Regions from separate parts of the Homo sapiens genome. Here region 1 is linked to region 2. Evidence: fine-mapped expression QTL. A gene starts in region 2. The other region holds a variant in brackets. All regions are shown on one strand. Distances are from middle to middle.

The links.
Region 1: its variant is fine-mapped to the expression of ATP6V1C2 in aorta (GTEx, PIP 0.93).

Annotation. Positions count from the first base shown.
Region 1 is chr2:10,740,528-10,743,027 of GRCh38, reverse strand. All of the region lies in intron 3 of ATP6V1C2 (ATPase H+ transporting V1 subunit C2), which reads right to left. Among named protein-coding and RNA genes, the nearest start is that of ATP6V1C2, 20 kb to the right of the region's middle. The variant G/A (reference allele first, on the strand shown) is at 1,287.
Region 2 is chr2:10,719,824-10,722,795 of GRCh38, reverse strand. It overlaps ATP6V1C2 (ATPase H+ transporting V1 subunit C2), which reads right to left and starts at 1,166. Exons shown (of 14, transcript NM_001039362.2): 1 at 1,065-1,166.

The DNA.
Region 1 (2,500 bases), 20 kb before region 2:
ATCTGGGGAATCCCCAAGGGAAGAAATTGGGTAAGATGGAGTGGGAGGAGTGGGGGGCATTGCCCAGGTGTGAGGCAGGGCAGGTAGGGACTGGAGGCCTTTGGGTGCTGGGCAGGCAGCCTCCAGACACGGGCAAGCTGCGGTGGGGGATCAGGCGAGAAGGGGCCGCCCAGGAGCTTCACAAATCTGCCTGTGGCAGGTCTGTACCGAACGTGCCCTTTCCTTCCTTTCCACAAACACTACGGGGGCACCTCTTAGCCCTGCTGATTTCTAAACCCTGGACCCCAAGGCGTTCAGGGGTGGTAGAATGGCCCTGGGGTAGAGGATGGCTGAAGGGCTTCTATCCCAACGGTGAGGGGGGCTCCTGAGATCTGTCTCCTCTTCTTCCGCACCCACAGCCAGGACATTCCTGCCATGCAGGGCCCCCAGGACTCTTCCAGTCCAGGGGTATGGGGAGAGGAGCAGCCGGCGGGTGCCTAGAAGCCTTGCACCCCAGCAGGAGGGCTGGAATTGGAGGTGAATACTTGAGGCTGCAGATCGCAGGGCCCGAGCAGAGGAGATTCTTATGTAGCCTTAAGACACAGTGTCTCCAGGGTTTCTGCCCTGCAAACTGCACAGGCCGCTCCCTTCTTTGTAGAAGGAAGGGTTGGGTCTCCCACCTCCAGCTCTCCCGCTGAGGAGTAGTGGATACAGGTTCTGAGGATCCTGAGGGCAAGTCTATGCAACACCAAAGAGAAGGCTTTCTCCCTCCCTGGATTTTCTGGAAAATTCTAGCAAACGCAGGATAGAGTTGTTTGGTTGTCAGAAATTACCCAGAAAGGCCAGCGTGGTGACTCACGCCTATAATCCCAGCACTTTGGGAGGCCGAGGTGGGCAGATCGCCTGAGGTCAGGAGTTGGAGACCAGACTGGACAACATGGCCAAACCCTGTCTCTACTAAAAATATAAAAATTAGCTGGGTGTGGTGGTGCGTGCCTGTAATCCCAGCTACTCGGGAGGCTGAGGCAGGAGAACCACTTGAGCCCGGGAAGCGAGATTGCAGCGAGCCAAGATCATGCCATTGCACTCCAGCCTAAGCCACAGGGCGAGACTCCATGGAAGGAAGGAAGGAAGGAAGGAAGGAAGGAAGGAAGGAGGGAAGGAGGGAGGGAGGGAGGAACCCAGATGCCTGGGAAGAGCGCAACCAGGTTACACGGCAGGATCGGAGGGAGGGCATCTGGGAGCTTCTCTTTGCCCCCAGAAAACCACTAAGGATTTATATCTGAATGCTCCACACACAAAGCCAA[G/A]GCCCTTAGAGCTGAGGAAATGGAGTGCACAGAGGCCCAGAAGCTTGCCCCAGGTCACTTCACTGGTGGCCACATGTCAGCTGGTCCTGACCCCCAGCCTTCCCCTAAAGCCAGTCTCCATCCGTGAAAGCAGGTGCTAGCATGCCCGCTCTGGATAACCCAAAACCCCAGGCCCGCCAGTGCCCGGCCACTGTCAGAGTACCTTGATGAGAGGGGCCACCTGCCCTAGCCTCACTCCTGCAGCCACACAAGAGGGGCCCCCACACCTGAGAGGGGAGGCCCAGAAGCTTCCAGGGGGACCCTGTGTTCCCTGCCTCCCCTGGTGACTCAGGAGCCCCTGGGCACCTCACCCCATCCTTTGTCTCTCTACTTCCTCCTCCACCAAGGGACAATGAAATCGTCATGCCCTGCAGCAAAGTCACCAGGAAAATGTGACTCCACAGCAATTAAGTGATTTTCTTTTCACAAAAACAAAGGTCCAGTGAGGCTCACTAGGAGGCTCCCCCTGGGGACTCTGGACACAGACACACCATGCTTTAAATTCCAACTTGGCTTCACAGAAACTGGAAGTTTAAATAACGAGCTGATCTTTAGCTCTTTAGAGGGGCTCCCCTCTGCATACAGTTGTGTAGAGCCACCCAGCAAAGTTACTCTTGTCACTAAGAACGGAATTCTCATTGGCCAAGCTGGCATTATAGAGTCACCCACATGCGGTCCAGACAGTAATGCTCTACCCTCTTCAAAAAGCCAATTTCAGCTGGGTGTGGTGGCTCACGCCTGTAATCCCAGCACTTTGGGAGGCCAAGGCGGGCGGATCACCTGAGGTCGGGAGTTTGAGACCAGCCTGGCCAACATGGTGAAACCCCGTCTCTACTAAAAATGCAAAAATTAGCCGGGCCTGGTGGCACACATCTATAATCCCAGCTACTTGGGAGGCTGAGGCAGCAGAATCACTTGAACCTGGGAGGCAGAGGTTGCAGTGAGCTGACACAGCGCCACTGCACTCCAGCCTGGGCGACAAGAGTGAGATTTGGTCTCAAAAAATGAAAAAGAAAGTTTTCCCCTTGGAAGGAACAGGTAAGGAGGACCTGAACTCAGCTCCCAGAGAAGTGTTGCTGAAATCCCCTGGGGCCTACAGTCTTTTAGGAATCACTGGGCAATCCCCCAAGCATTTGGGATAGAAAGAAACATCACACATTGAAGTTCTGGAGACT
Region 2 (2,972 bases):
AACAGAAACAGAAGGAGAGATGTGTCAGATATCCCCGCCTCACCACTCCCTACCCTCCAATTCATCCTTTCTAGGATGAGCTCCAAGGACATCCATTTGCAAAAGCAAAGCTCTTATCTCCACCTGGGCAGCCCTCAGGTGTTCCCGAAACTCCAAAGCTCCTTGGTCCCTGCAGTGGTTCTGGCTGGTTTTCAGGAGCAGAGGAGGAGGGAGAGGTTCCTTTCTTTCTCTCCACCTCAGTGAACAACCCCTATCAGGCATCATAAAACGGGAGGACAGTAAGCTGGAGGCGGACACCTTCTGGGGGAATATTTGTCTTCCTTCCACACTGCATCTTCTGGGATGCAGGATGGGGTGGAGGAAGGCGTGGGATGAGGAAGGGATTTTCACAACAGGCTACCAGGTCAAACCGCAGGTCAAACTGGCCAACCTTGTGATTGGTATTAGCTTTAAAAATAGACTTCAGAGGATTTTTTTAAATAAGAAAAAAAAAAGTAGTAGGGGGTGAGGGGAACTACTAAAGTCTTTTTTCCACTAGGCGAGGTGCCCGCTCAGCAGTGCTGGGTCCCTTGCCCGGCGTGGCCGGTGGTTTCGCGGCCGCGTCTGCAGCCTCTACGGCCGATTCGATTCGTGCTGCTCCTTCACAGGTGTCCACACCCGCACCTTTCCCCCTCGGCCAGGTTCCCCCTTTCCGCTTGCCTCCCCGCGGCGTCTCCGGACGGCTGGGGGAAAGCAGGATAAGCTCTGAGGAGCCAGAGACCCCTGGTGGAACCTCTTCCTTTCGGACTCCCGGTCCCGCTCCAATCCGAGGGCATTTTGTTCTCTCCTAACCCCGCGCAGACCCAACGCAGCTCCTTTCCGCCTTGACTGCCCATGGCCTGGGGACGAACTGGCCCGCCGCAGCACCTGCGGAGATGCTACCAGCCCGGCCGCGGGGAAGCGCGCGGAGGTGCACGCTGCCCACGTTTCCAATGGGAAAGCGCAGGCTGGTGCGCAGCCGGACCCCGTGCCTGTGTCCCCACCCCGCCCCTGCCTCGGGTCCCCGCTCCGCGGTGCGTCCTTACCGGGAGCCGGCGGGGCGCGGGCCGCGCGGTAGGGGGCTGCGGGCGACGGGCGGCGGGTGCGGGGCCGGAGCGCTCTGCCGGCTCCCGGGAGGCAGCGGCTTCGCTGCCCCGCGCCCCGCCCCGCCTTTTATCCCGGGCTCTGGAGGCGGCCCCGGCCCCGCAGGATATTTGCATACGGGCCGTCCGCCTCCCGCCTCGCTCCAGCCAGGGGCCCGAGAGCCGGGGAGCAGGTGCAGGCGCCGGGCAGGAAGGCGCGGAGGAGACGCGCAGGGTCTCCAGTCCCCTACGCGCGAGGGCCGGGGCCCTGGGGGCTTCTGCGGCGCGTCCCACGGGGTCTCCTGCCGCACGACTGCGCTGCCGCGTCCGGGACGCGTGGACGGCTGAGCCGGGTGGGAGTCGGGAAAAGGCTCTGAGCTCGGGACCACCCCGCCCTCCCGCTGCGGCCGCCGCAGCCCCGCTTGCCCACCCACTCTCGCCTCACAGAGACATGCGCGGATCTCAGGGGAATCACCTACTCCCAGGTGTCTCCAGGCCAGTGCAAGAGACAGGGCCCACCTGTGGGGAGCCGCGCAACAGGTGCGCAGGTGCTCGGGACGCACCTGCGTAGACAGCGAAGCTTTTCCTGTCCGTGTGGGCGCGGGTGTGCGCCCGGTTGCCCAGGAAACTCCCACCTCACCCTCTCCACCTTCCGAATTGCCCTGTGGATGGGGGGTGGGGGGGCGGTTACAACTCACCGTACGACGATCAGAGATGAGTTCATGATCGGTGCTGTCTGGAACCAGGAGGGGGAAACCCTGGAAATTAACGTGTGAAGGTTAAAAACAAGACAAAACCAAAGGAAAACTCGGAGAATTCATTTTCTCTGGACCGAAGGAGAAGGCTTTAAAGCATCCTTCCATGTGGGCGATGTTTTCAGTGGTTTCTGGGAAAGATGAAGATCTCAAGAGTGTCCTTCGAGGGGGCATTGGAGACGGTGTTCTTGCTTCCTTAAACGTGGACTCCCCCTCCTGTGTAAACTAGCCTTATCTATCAACCCATTCTTGTGAATGCATCAGGGTCTTTGGCAGAAGGATTTGACATCATCTGAGACTTAAGCTGTAATCACATAGGGTGGGATGGGAAGCCCCAGAGACGGGACAGAAAGGTGGCTTTAAGATCACAGTGGGGTCGTACTGCCAGCCTAGGTTAGACTTGGAAGTCCCAGCACCTGCAGCAGGCATCGTTATTGGGACACTAATGTGCATTAGTCAGTCCTTGCAACATCTTCCTGAGGGAGGATACCTGAAACCAAGGGATGGGGAAACTCCGGTATGTTTGAGGACATTAAGTGGCTATTCCAGGGAAGGAGTGGCCCAGTTAGACATTAAAGCGGGGTGGTCTCCAATCTTGGACGTTATCCAGGCACGACATTTTATCCAGCCAGGGAAAACATCTTAGAGCTGGGGGCAGATCTCATCTGCAAACAAGGGTGGAGATGCCCACAGAAGTTACGTGAATTGCCCAGTGTCACACAGCTGGTTATGTCAGAGCTACAGTTGGAACTCGGGCCTGTGGCTGAGTCTTATGTCCTTTCTACTGCTCCCAACAAGCCTGCAGGACTAGATAATCAGGGTGAGGAAGAACACATGCTTTCTATTTTAGTCCACATTTTCCCATCTGCAAGGTTCAAAGCCATGGACCTGGCTTCTCAGAGACTGAGCAACACATTTAGAAGTATCTGTGACCTGGCTCGTGGCACCACTCTTTCTATACACCTGGTTACCTGTAAATACTTTGTTTTGTGCCAGGTGTGGTGGCTTACACCTGTAATCCCAGCACTTTGAGAGGCCAGGTGGGCAGGTCACCTGAGATCAGGAGTTCGAGACCAGCCTGACCAACATGGAGAAACCCCGTCTCTATTAAAAATAA